2 linked regions of the Homo sapiens genome follow. The protein of the gene in region 1 interacts with the protein of each later gene in a pairwise test. Each region holds a gene or a part of one and is shown on either strand. Other genes may lie near its edges.

Region 1 (7,018 bases):
TATACTGTTTGATTACTGTAAGTAGAACATCAAATGATAGGACAGAAACCAACCTATGTATCAGCTCTGGAAACAAAGTTTTTAATTAAAATAAACAAAGTTTGCTTTCCAAAGCTTCCTCTTGGTTTGATTTCCATTCATCTGCTAGCTATAATGACTGGTACATTCCTGAATCTGGTTTGTTCTGTTTCCAGGCATATGAGAAAGTTGTGTCCACAGCTATCAGATGGTTGCCGGCATGTGAAAAGGGAAGAAATTTAACTTAGAGTTGGTAAGCAAAATAGCCCCAGACAAGCATTCTTATTTGGTCTCAGGACCCTTTGACAGTGCTAATTTATAGAAGACCCCAAAAAACTTTTATGAGCTAATCAATATTTACCAAATTAAAAGTTGAAATTGAGAATGGTTTACAATATATACTAATTCATTTAAAAATGACTCATTGTATTAACATACTTTATTAAAAAAAAAAACACTACATTTTCCAAAACAAAGCTAACTGAATGAAAGAAGAGTGCAGTTTTACTTTTTTTTTTTTTTTACATCGTTTTAATGACTGGTTTAATAGATATAGTCAAATTCTCATATCTGCTTCTATAATCAATCTATTGCTACATCACATACCATGTAGCTTCTGGAAAACTCCACTGTACATTTGAGAGTGCAAGTAAACAAAGCAACTAGAGTCTTAGTATTATTATAAGAACAATTTTCCCTCAGACACTCTGCAAGAGTCAAAGGACCCCTATGGGTCACTAGATAACACTTGGAACACCGCCGCCCTAAACTAGCCACGAGTGGTTTCAACGTACATTCTATTGTAACACATCATTTTCTCATGCATTTTCATGGATGTCTTCAGATATTAAGTAAACAAAAAAAAATGCTTTGATCCTTAAGTAAAACAAATAACATTGGACAATTTTTGAGTGTTGGAAGGATAAATGGAGAAGAGTAGGTGCCTGGAGATGTGTGGTATTCAGCAAAGTATTTTGTAAGTTGTGGGAAATAGACAATAAGCTATAAGCAAACAGGCAACTGGGTAATTCCTAGCAGTCAGCTGCAACTTCTTTACCTTTGATTCAATGAAGCAAAATGGAATCCCAGTGACAGTAACATTATTACAGAAATACATTGAAACTGTTAGGCTCTGATTTATTTAAGCAAATAATTTGAAGTTTTGGTACTTAAAATTACTGGAAACCAGTTACTCTTAATTACTGGAAACCAGCACTCTGACAATGTTGAGAGGTGCTGTCCTGTGTTATTCAAAGATATAAACTTCTATCTTTCTTTCAAGTGGCTGATGGAGGTAGGGTGTATAGTATTCCATGCATTCAATTCTGCTTTTCATATGCAACTACTGAAAAATGAGAAGTTCACTTTTATTCATATATATATACAAATGGGGATATATTCATATATATATATAAATGGAGATATATATATATTCATATATATATATAAATGGGGATATATATACACACTCACATACACAAATGTGGTTTTTGGGGTTTTTTTGAGACGGAGTCTTGCTCTGTTGCAGTGCAGGCTGGAGTGCAGTGACACGATCTCGGGCAACTTCCGCCTCCCAGGTTCAAGCGATTCTCCTGCCTCAGCCTCCCGAGTAGCTGGGATTACAGGCGCGTGCCACCATGCCCAGCTAATTTTTTTGTGTTTTTAGTAGAGACAGGGTTTCACTGTGTTAGCCACGGTGGTCTTGATCTACTGACCTCGTGATCCGCCCACTTCGGCCTCCTAAAGTCCTGGGATTACAGGCGTGAGCTACTGCCCGGCCATGTGTGTATTCATTCATTCATTCATTCATTTACTCATTCATGTAACACATATTTACAGAGAACCTCTTTAAGTGTGTCAGGCACTATTCCTGGCAGTTGAGATACAAAACAGAACACACATTCCTGGCCTCCTGTGTCTTGCGTCCTAATGTGATGAGAAATATGATGAAGATTAGTAAGTAAAATAAATTATCCATTACACTGTGATAAGTATTAAAAAGTAAAGGAGGAAATATGAAATATTGGGAATGGAAACATCATGACTTAAAATATGCTGACAAGTAGAGGGACTGACTGAAGAGTTGGACATCTGAGCACATATGGAGGGAGCATGATGGGGAAGAGTGTTCTAAGCAGAGGAAACCACAACTGCAAAGACTATGAGGTTGGCAGCTTGTGGAGAGCTTTCTGGGAATACAAAGCTGGGTAAACAGTCTGTGGGGTCAAAGAGGTAATGAGGGGAGGATTTTAAAGCCATCGTTAGGACTTTGGTTTTTACTTGTGTTGGGAAGCCACAGGAGACTTTGAGCAAAGGAGTGGTACGATCTCACTTCTTTTTAAGTAGATTTATTTAGGATTCTGTATTAAGGATAGAGTCAAAAGACTAGTTCCTGGTCTACCGTAACACTATAATCCAAACAAGAGATGATGCAGATTGTAGCGGAGGTGGTAAGTAGTTGGATATACTTTGAAGGAAGAGCCAACAGGTTATATGCCAAATGCATATAAGACATAAAAGAGAGGAGTTAAAGGTGGGTTTGAACAAGGAAAGATGCAACCATTTACTGAAATACAAAGACCTTGGGTATGAGTGAGAAGGGGTTGAACTAGCTGACATCTTACAGTCTGTGCCTGGATTCAAATCTCAGCTGTGTGTGTCTCTCTCTCTGTAAAATGGGAATAATAATAGTGCCTACCTCATAGTTTATTATGAGAATTAAGTGGGTATATATGAATAAAGCACTTAGAGCAACACCTGGCACATTGTTAGTTAATATTAGCATTACCTCTTCAAGCTGGAATCTTCGAGTACATATCAAATTTTAGCTATTCTCTGTTCATGGGCTGTGTAGGATAGAGGGACAAAACTGAGTGGCTAATAAGAAGATAAAGATAGAAAACTAAGCTTAAAGTTAAAGGATATACACTTCAATATTTCTACATGTATGGAACAGTATTGCATACACGCGCAAGCATCACTGAACTAGATGCACCCTTCAAGAGATTGGGTTACATATTGATATATATGAATGAGAACCCTGAAATAAACTGATTTCAGAGGAATAACAGAAAACATATACATTTCTATACCTATAAGGACACTGAAAACTTCCAATCCTGAATCAAACAGTTAATGAAATCCCAAAATGCAACACTAATGCAAATGAGAAGACGCTGTCATAGAATGTTGAAATACATACTCTTCTAAAGATAAAAGGTCTGCTCTTCCACCCTCTTCATTTTCCTACAAATTAGGAAAATTTAATCAGTTCTGAAAAAGGAAATGTACATGCTAAAATGGTGAATTACTGCTAGAGTTCTGATGTTTAAAACCACAGGCTTGCGATCAAAATAACCTCTTTAATTTTAGATTATCATGCAGATTAATTTCTTCAGTTTCTCAGGCACTATTCTGTTTTTTTTAAAAAAAGGGTGGGGTTTCAAAAGAAAACTAATACTCATTTTTTCCCCGATTAAATTGCTCAACCATTAAAAAGGAGAACAAATTGGAAAGTCCTACAGTACTCTCTCCCCTCCGTCCCCCCCCTCCCCATTTTTTTTCTTGAAAGGGAACAAGCAGTACTTTTGCTAAGGGATCTTTAAGCCGAAACTCAGCTAGGCGCCCCAGAGCTTCCTCAGGATAGCAAAGCTGGATTTTTGAGCAGCACCACCTGCTGGTCCTACACACGTTTTACTTCCTCCACCCCAAATCTCTTTCTGTTGGAACTGCACTCTTTCAGAGCCTCTGGGCCCTAATACAAAGCAAGCACACTCTAAAGAAGCCAGAAGAATGCAAGCAGCGAAGTCGCCGCTCCCCACAGGCAAGAGAGTACCGGCAGACAGCGGCGCGAGACAGGGGCAGAACGATGAGGCGCCGGAGTTAGCTCGCCGGTGCGGGTGCGGGTGCGCGGCGCGTCGCGGCCCCTCCTCCGCGACGCGCCGGGTGGTCACGTGACGGCCGCGCGCGTTCCCGGCAGCTGCGGGCTCCGAGGCCAGAGAGAAAAGACTGCGAGGTGGCCGCAGCTGTGGCCGGAGAGGTGGGAGTCGGAGCGAGGCCCTCTCGGGGGAGCAGGGTGAACGCCGGCCACTCTAGGATCCTCACTCGGGGAGAGGAGGCATAGCTCGCGGTGTCACCTCCAGCCGCAACGTACTCCGGGTCGGCCTTGCGCTCGGGGCCTGAGAGGGGCGGCGGCGGGGTCAGGGGCCGGTACGTAGATGGACGCCCTTGGGCTGGCGCGGCCCCGGCTGTCCGCGCAGAGGCGGGATGGGACAGTTCAGCCCTTTCCGCCACCCCCGCCTTGGCTGCTGGGGCAGGCAAGACGACCGTGACAGCCCCTGCGCTGCCCGAGGGCGCCGCAGCCCCTGCCCTGGGTGACGGCCGGAGCTGGTCTCGGTCCGGGTGCGAGGGGCGGAGCAGCGGCCATTACTGCGCAGCCTCTTCCGCCTGAGCCCGCTTCGCTGCCTCGGGTGGCAGGCGGGTCCCTCTCCTCCCCTCTGGGCCGTGGTTTTAGGCCTTTACCCGGGGACCTTCTGGCCTCGAGGTGTAGGGGCGGCGATGGTTTTTCGGCGGTAGCCTGCTCCATGTTTTCCCGTGTGGGGTCAGACAGTTTGGGCCTTGGGTCAGATCGAAGCCAGGGCGTACAGTCTGCATTTTTGCCTTTTCCCGGAGTGTCTCTGGCTGCTGCTTTCTCTTCTCTCGCTCTTCCTCCTTTTTTTTCTCCTGCTCAGTGTCTCGGTCTTGCCTAAAACGAAGAGAGCAATCCCTGCACCTTGTCCTAGTGAAGCCCAGCGCTGCATATTCTTAGTTGTTTTTGACGGCTGTTGAAGCATCGGAACAATTAAGAGATCTCAGAATATCCCTTGAGCCTCCAAACCCTCTGCATCTTAAAAGCTGAGGCTGTTGCTTTGTTCTGATTGTTGGGTGGGGAGTTCTCTTCCTACCCTCCATCCCGTCTGAAGGAGTGTGGGTCTTCCATTGTTGTCGCTATTTATTTTGCTAAGGCTTCTAAAGAATGTAAAATTGTTTTAAGAGTGGAGACGGAACCGTCCTCTCCACAGGTAAAACCTACAGGACTGTAAGTTTACACACACATCCTGGCAACTAGAATCTTTTCTCGTTAATCATATTGGTATATGTTTTAATTTATTTTCTCTAAGTGCCATTTTAGTGAGCACTTATTTCTCAAGTTTTGAACATTTTGTTTAATATTTTTGTAATATCGAAACAGTGTAGAACTGAGGAGAGAAGAAAGCCCAAAGATGATAGGGTACGCTTTGTTCTTTGTATGATTGGCATTTCAGGTAGTGGGCACATCCCCCCCACCTCGTGTGTGTACTTTTCAAATGGGATGTGAACGTATAATATTGGCATTCAATCCAGTATATAATTATAGAATTTGGAAGACTTAGGACATTTTAGTCAGTGAATCTATATTTAGACTTTTCAAAGACATGGCACGTAAGGACACGTGGAGAAAATGTCCCACACAGATAACAGGATTTGTGATTTTGGCTTTGCTGTTTTATGATTAGCAAATATTGTTTGTATAGAGTGTCTGGGTGCCCTAAAAACACATGAAAATAGGTCAACTAAATCTCGTTTTAAAGAGAAAACCGGAAGAGTGAACACCACTCTAAAAATAGATTTTGGATGTGTTTGTTTTGGTGCCTTGTATATCTTAAAGTGGAGGATGTTGTTCAGCCCAATCTTTCATTTAGAATTTATGTCTCAAATGAGCCAGTGTATCATGTGGGCAGACTGGAAATACATTTAAATATTTTTTTTCTTCGCTGGTTGTTCAGAACTTGGTAGAATTATAATTATCAGGAAAACTCTCTCCAAATAGCTGGTCTTTTAGACAAGAGAAGAAAAAAGAAATAACTTCTTTTAAAAGGAGATGTCAACTTACAAAGTGTTTTGTTTCAGTCTCCACCAACCTAACTTGTCAGAGGAAAGGAACAGACTTTTTTTTTTAAAGGATCCAAAACGATATTTTGAGTCAAAAGAAGAAAAGGATATTAAATCTTTTGTTTTCACAATATCGATCTTTTTAAAGAATATTATTTTATATGTTAACCATATACTACCAGGAAACATCTAACAGCACTGACAGTTGGGAATTCGAATGCGTATTTTTCTCCCGTGTTAGTAATAGAAGGTACTGAGCCTTTTCCATTCTCTTGGTTGCCTTGTGCCTGAGGAATCTGAATTTGTGAAACAACATCTTTGTGGATATAGAAACTAATTTATGTAACACTTGGCTACAACCACCTGTGCTTACTTACGGACTATCTTTAGTTTTCATGGCGTGTTACCTTTTGGGTTAATTCAAATCCAAAATGTTGTTAACGGACTGCTAATTAAAGCATTTAGAACTTAGAATTACAGAATTATAGAGTAGGATGAGATAACAAAAGACTGGGGGTTATGACTTGACCAAGGTCACACAGATAATTTGCCAAAGAGCTTTCTTATTTATGAAATGGTTGCTGGCTAAGAAACATCTGTGTGTGATATGATTAAAAGACAATATTCGTTCACTTTTACATCTCATGTTTTGAAATAAAATGCAAAGCTCACTTTTTTGTTGTTTTGAGAAAAATTAAAGGGTTTAATGGGCTAGTATAAAGATTGTGAAGGCAGTAAGTAGACTGCCACATAGTAACGTCTTAAAGGGAAATAATTCTTTAAAGTATCAGACCCCATTTAGTTGAAATGAGTTTTGTCTGAAGTTTCCAAGTATGACCTATGCTTTTTCTTAGCTAATTTTTAGCAGGAGATGATGAGGGCTAAAAATTGAGACATTAGGGCATTTAGTTACATCTCTCAATTTGTGACTGGTTTATAAAAAATACTAAGATGTGTCTGCTAACTCACACCTGATTTATCTACTCCTTTTATGTATATATAATTTTTTTTGAGTTGTGTACCAAAAGTTGGAACATTTCAAGTATTTTTTCTTTCTGTCACTGAGTGATTTCATGTAGAACATTTACTG
Region 2 (6,427 bases), on another chromosome or scaffold:
GGTCAACACACATATATATTCCCTAACTTGAATCTCTCTCGGCCAGGCACATTGGCTCACGTCTGTAATCCCAGCACTTTGGGAGGCAGGTGGATCACTTGAGATCAGGAGTTCGAGACCATCCTGGCCAACATGGTGAACCCTTTCTCTACTAAAAATACAAAAATTAGCTGGGCGTGGTGATGCATACCTCTAGTCCCAGCTACTCAGGAGGCTGAGGCAGGAGAATCACTGAAACCCAGGAGGCGGAGGTTGCAGTGAGCTGAGACTGCGCCACTGCACTCCACCCTGGCGAAAGAGCAAGACTCATCTCCAGAAAAAAAAAAAAAAAAAAAAGCCCAGTGTAGTGGTAGGGGCCTCTAATTCCAGCTACTCAGGAGGCTGAGGCACGAGAATCGCTTGAATCCAGGAGGTGGAGGTTGTAGTGGGCCAAGATCACGCCACTGCACTGCAGCCCGGGCGACAGCGAGACTCCATCTCAAAAAAAGAAAAACAATCAGCGATTTTGTGAGAAAAGCCGTTGAGGTCCTCTCAAATCTGCATGTGAGCAAGTAGGTCTACAACAGGCAAACATACTGCTTCCCGACTTCTGAAAAGTCAAGGAATCCTAAGTAATCTAGATGAAAAAGTGACTCCTTGGTTTCTTCACATTCCCCTCCAAGAGCCCAGTGAGCCATCAGCTCCTGGCCAGCAACACACCTGATACAAAATGGGAGAAGTGTATAAATTATTATGTTGATAAGCAAGATAAGTGCCAAAGGGTAGATAAGAGTGAAAGCATTGGGAAGCCTGGCAGAGTGCAGTCAGCAGGTCAGTTCCTGGCGGTTCATTGAGCAGCTTGGCCCAAAGATGTAAGTGAAGTCCCTCCTGGTGGAGGGATGAGAGCAGCTCCAGTTACTCGGCCTTCATGACACAGGAAGTTGAAGGTGGCACAGGCATTGGGCTGCAAAGAAAAGGCCAGCATCAGCCTGTCTAGCGCCAGGCCTGTGCTCCCCGCAGCATGCCCCAGTCCCGGGACTCACCGTGTCCTGCACTTCCACAGCAATGCCCCGCTGCCTCATGGCTTGAAGCACCTGGGACTGCAGCCTCTCGGTCCGGTCTCCAGTCCCCACCACCACGATCTCTAGGGAAGGGTGGGTGTGGCTAGTCTACAGTTCTGTTGAGAGGCTGCAGTGGGGGTCGCCTTCTGGGGCCCAGAACACCTCTGTTCTCCCTCCCCTTCCCCAGTACCTATCCGGGGCTCCAGCAACCAGAAGAGGGAAAAGCTGTCTTCGGTGATGTCCTGGTGGGATCCCACCTGTGCAGGGAGGAGGCACATTTAATACGACAAATCCACGCAGCCTCTCCCCATCTCCATCCACTGCAGGAGGAGACAGAGGAAAGCCAAGTTTGCAGGGACCAAGCAGGGTGAGGGCCTGTGACTCTGGGCCTCAGTTTCCACACTGCGGGCCAGGACTCACGTTCCACTGCACCACCGAGTGCGGGAGCAGAGCGCAGGGGCCGAGCACGCGGTTTCCGTTTATCATGAAGCCGCGGCTGTTGTAGCTGTCGATGTACATTGCCTGAGCGGCCTCGCGTTGCAGCAGAGAGATGCGCGTCCGCTGATACAGCTCGTCATCCGCCGGCGAGAGCCGATGCCCTCGCCGCGGGGCCCTGCGGAGGGAAAGGGTCAGGGGCGCGGGGCCGGGCCGGGCAGCCCGAGAGGCCGGAAGGTGCTGGGCTGGCAGTCGCCGGCCCTAGGGGGCTGGATGGTCGAGGGCGCGGGGTCCAAGCTCACCAGGGAAGCTCAACGGGCGGACAGCGCAGCGAGGGTCGCGCTCGGTACAAGCTACGTAGCGCGAGAGCGGTGGCCATGGCTGACCAACGCGCGGCGAAGTCGTCACCGGCGCCGTTAGTCCCCGGGTTGGGAGGGCCCTGCGGAGCCTGACCCAGCGTGGCTGCAGCGCCCCCTGCGTCCCGGAGGGCACCGCACAGCTCGACCGGCCCAGCAGGCGAGTGTCCTCAGTCTTAGGAGGCCGAGTTCCCCGACCTCCGGCGCAGCTCCAGTGTCAGCACCTGCCGCCCTCCCCGCCCCGGGCCCTTGCCCATAGTCCCGGGGGAGTGGAACACCTGGCAGCGTGGCCACCCTCAGGGCGTTGCCTGGGCCGCAGCCGCGGCCTGGCCCCCGGGCTCTCAGCTATTAAGCCGCGCTCCCGGGGCGGGGCGACCGCCCACCTGGTCGCGTCCCGAACACCTGGCCAGGCGGTGGGTGCCAGACTTCTAGCCCCTAATTCCAGCCTTTGGGGCTTCGGGCACCGTGGGCGGGGCAGCCGGCTCAAGTTTCTCCGGCTAGACGCGGAAGCACGCCCCGCCCTAACCGTCACCCGCGCGACCGTTGGCCTCTCCGCAGCGCGCGGAGAGGGGCGTGGCCGAGCGTGGATTGGCTTCTCGGGTTCTCTAGGGGGCGTGGCCAGGTGGTTTCTCCTTAAAATGGCTCCAAGTCTGCAGGCAGCCAGAGCAAGCGGAAGGGCAAGCTGTGATAGTGTTTGGGTGGCTGTTCGGCTGGCCCAGACCAGGCCGAACCGGACCAGACTTGAAGTAGAAGCGCGTGGAGCATCACCTTGTCCTCGTTCACTCTGCTCGCGTCCTGGGAGTCCCCCGTCCCCCGTCTTGATCCAAGTCAAGGGCCTACTGGCGCGAGAGTCGCTGGCCCCCGCGCGGGGTTTGGGCATCTCGGCACGCCGGCTCTGTCGTGGCCTCAGGGGAACATTGTCGCTTTCGCTACCCGCGGGGCCGGGCGAGCGGGAAGCTCGGCACAGTGGGAGCCTGGTGGTGGGTCTCCTGGGGCCGGTCGCAATGGGTTTCCGGGGGTCCCGCGGCTGCTCTGTGGACCCCTTCGGCCCCTGGTGCTCCGGGCGCTGGCAGCGTCACCGGACAAAGGCCACCGAGCGCGGGGGTGTCCCCGAGGTGGACGCGCGGGTTTACTTCCTCTCCGGCCCCACGGGCGCGCTTCCCTCCTGACGGATTCCGAAGCCCGCCCCACCACCGTCACCGCACCAGTGGCCCAGGCTTCGTGGGACCAACAGGGCTAATCCTGCCCCACGGATCTAATCCGGATCGGGACCCGGTCCCAGGGGAGGCCCCCACCTCCCCTTCTATTGTTCTGTGGCCCAGGTGAGCGTCTTGTTCCCTCTAGACTCCGTTTCACAACCTACTCCCGGGTCTTCCTCCTGGGACTGGGGATGGGCGGGTTCTGATGTGGCCCCAGGGCGAGTGACCTGGGGGCAGGAGCTCCCCCGCCCCCCGCCAACGGCTGGACAGCGGGCAACGGAATCCCAAAAGCAGCTGTTGTCTCCAGAGCATTCCAGCTGCGCTTGGATTTCGTCCCCTGCTCTCCTGCCTGAGCAGCGCCCTGGCCCAGATGGGGTGCCCCTGACCCCCAGACATACTTTACTGAGCTGCTTGGGTCTCAGTTCCTCTCAGTTGCGCCCTCAGGCTGGAGGTGATGGGTGTAGACGTGGGAGAGCCGAGGCTGGTGGCCATCTCTGGAACCCTGGGGAGGATTGGCGAGGGAGGGTGGACCCAGGACCTCTGGGTAGGGCTGCAATGGTAGTGACTCCCCCAGGGCTGCCTCAGCCCGCATCTCGCTAAAGATAGCCCTCTTACTTCCTGGGGAAAAACCACCCCAACCGTCTTCGTGGATGAGAGTATCTGAAGTCCTCAGTTTGACTGAGGGTTCCCAACCCTGCTAAGCAGTTGTCTCCAGGTCATGCACCTTCAGAATGGAAAGCGCTTTGGAATGACACGATCACTCCCGTTGAGTGGGCACCCGAGAAGCCATCGGGAATGTCGTGTCCGCCCAGTGCTCTTTCGGCGCCTCCCAGCAGGGCCTCAGCCCTGGCCCAGAAAGGGGCCTTGCCAAGCTTTTCCTGCCCCTGGGTTTCCCTGCTCTCCGGATTTCCCAACTCTCTCTACTGAGTTAGCTTCTCTATTAAAAGGAATGGGGGTGGGGTGGGGGGTGAGTAAGTTACAGTGAAATGAAGACATTTGGGAACCTTTGTGGGAGAAAGAAAAAGACCTTTCCTATTGGTAGAGGAGCAAGATACTCCAACTGAGGCCTATTTTCTATTATGGTCGCATTATTTGGTTGGCCCGTAAATGGCTGTTGCCTAAAACAGGAAGCTTTAAGGATCGTTGTTAAAGCACACCAGGTTAAAGGAGTCACATTAAAAGCTGGTCATTCTGAGCCGGGCGCGGTGGCTCACGCCTGTAATCCCAGCACTTTGGGAGGCCGAGGCAGGCGGATCACCTGAGGTCGGGAGTTCGAGGCTTGACAAACATGGAGAAACCCCGTCTCTATTAAAAATACAAAAGTAGCCGGGCGTGGTGGCGCGTGCCTGTAATCCCAGCTACTTGGGAGACTGAGGCAGGATAATCACTTGAACCCGGGAGGGGGAGGTTGCGGTGAGCCAAGATCACACCACTGTACTCCAGCCTGGGCAACAGGAGCGAAACTCCGTCTCAAAAAAAAAAAAAAAAAGTCTGGTAATTCTGGAAGCCATCATGATGGTTGTGATTTCTCAGGTATCAAGAGAAGAAAACCGCCAACTGTATCAGAGTGCTTATTTATTGGGCATAAAGACCACCCGGGCTGGGTGCAGTGGCTGATGCCTGTAATCCCAGCACTTTCGGAGGCCGAGGCGGGCAGGTCACGAGGTCAGGAGTTCGAGACCAGCCTGGCCAACATGGCGAAACCCCGTCTCTACTAAAAATACAAAAATTAGCCGGGCGTGGTGGCGGGCGCCCGTAATCCCAGCTACTCGGGAGGCTGAGGAGGAGAATCCTGTGAATCCGGGAGGTGGAGGCTGCAGTGAGCCGAGATCGTGCCACTGCACTCCAGCCTGGGAGACAAGAGCAAGACTCCGTCTCAAACAAACAAAAAAACACCCATATCTCAAACGAGAAAATGCTTGCAAATAACCTGAAACCGCGGAACACTATTCTTTTTAAAACGAGATATTTTAAGTAGGTCGTGAAAGTGGCCTTAATGTTATACTGCCTTATTCCAGTGACGAATATTCATCATGTGTAAAATGGGAGAAATGAAATGTTATTAAAACAAACATGTGAGACTTCGATGAGAAGAGACGGTACCCGGTCTAAGCGCCCACCGGGTCGCGAGGATCCTTTTCCTGGTTAAGGCCTGGGTCACAGCGAAAGAACCCTAGGCCCAGGGAGGGCCCCGAGATTTCAGATCCGGGGCCCGGCTGTGCAGGTGGACCACGCGGAAGGGGCGCTGGGGGCGGTAGGTCGAAAGCAGCCGACAGGGCTACCACTGGCGCACCTGTCCACTTACGGGGACCACCGCCGCATCCCCGCCCCAGCTAGTCGGTCCTTTCCGGAAGTTCCACCTCCCTAAATTTTTTTCCGGTTCCGCTTACTCCTTCCGGTCACCATGGCGACCAGGCGCCTTGGGGTCGGGGAGACGCTGGGGGCCCTCAACGCGGCCCTGGGGCCAGGCGGTCCGGTGTGGATCAAGGAGACGCGCACCCGCCACCTGCGTTCCCGAGACTTTCTGGCACCGCACCGCGCGCTGCAGGCGCGCTTCGATGACGGCCAGGTGGGCGTGAGCCGGGCGGGGCCGTGCGGCCGGGAGATGGGCCCCGTGCCGTGGCTCTTTTACACGCCCGTTCTCCCGCAGGTTCCGGAGCATTTGCTCCATGCCCTCGCCTGCCTGCAGGGCCCCGGTGTGGCCCCGGTGCTGCGCTGCGCGCCGACCCCCGCGGGTCTGTCTCTCCAACTGCAGCGGTCCGCCGTCTTCGAGCGCGTCCTCAGCGCCGTGGCCGCCTATGCCACGCCCGCCTCGCCTGCCTCGCTGGGCCAGCGCGTCTTACTACACTGCCCAGCACTGCGCAGCTCCCCCTGCGCACTCCGCTTGAGCCAGCTGCGTACGGTGCTCGTGGCCGATCACCTGGCGCGAGCCCTGCGCGCTCACGGGTGAGCGGGGCCGCGGGGCCGGAATGGAGAAAGTGGGACTGCCGGGTACCTAGAAAGCGAGCGGCGCCGCCCGTGGGGACTGCGGCTGGAGGTGGGAAGTCGTGGCGAGCTGGACCAGGTGCTCAGACTGAGGCGGCCGCCCTCCCTTCGCAGGGTGTGCGTGCGCCTAGTGCCAGCTGTGCGGGATCCGCACATGCTGACCTTCCTGCAGCAACTGCGGGTGGACTGGCCCGCTGCCTCGGAGAGAGCTTCCTCCCACACCCTGAGGAGCCACGCCCTTGAAGAACTTACCTCTGCTAATGACGGGAGGACACTGTCCCCTGGCATCCTAGGCAGACTGTGTCTGAAGGAGCTGGTGGAAGAACAGGGCCGCACAGCTGGCTATGACCCCAACCTGGACAACTGTCTGGGTAGGACCTGAAGCCTAGCAGGGCCAGAAAAGGCAGGAGGG

What was found.
Region 2: the proteins of RNF146 (region 1) and NDUFAF3 interact in binary tests that used the Homo sapiens proteins (3 or more experiments, as listed by UniProt).

What each region holds. Positions count from the first base shown.
Region 1 is NC_000006.12:127,262,869-127,269,886, forward strand, and holds the start of RNF146 (E3 ubiquitin-protein ligase RNF146), read left to right. Parts: upstream 1-3,995; 5' UTR 3,996-4,057; exon of another isoform or gene 4,058-4,227; intron 4,228-7,018. UniProt on the Homo sapiens protein: E3 ubiquitin-protein ligase that specifically binds poly-ADP-ribosylated (PARsylated) proteins and mediates their ubiquitination and subsequent degradation. May regulate many important biological processes, such as cell survival and DNA damage response.
Region 2 is NC_000003.12:49,017,572-49,023,998, reverse strand, and holds NDUFAF3 (NADH dehydrogenase [ubiquinone] 1 alpha subcomplex assembly factor 3 isoform a precursor), read right to left. Parts: upstream 1,879-6,427; 5' UTR 1,855-1,878; coding exon 1,778-1,854; intron 1,654-1,777; coding exon 1,461-1,653; intron 1,298-1,460; coding exon 1,231-1,297; intron 1,124-1,230; coding exon 1,023-1,123; intron 944-1,022; coding exon 827-943; 3' UTR 504-826; downstream 1-503. Other genes in the region: DALRD3 (DALR anticodon-binding domain-containing protein 3), read left to right, coding at 5,435-5,599, 5,681-5,976, 6,130-6,386. UniProt on the Homo sapiens protein: Essential factor for the assembly of mitochondrial NADH:ubiquinone oxidoreductase complex (complex I).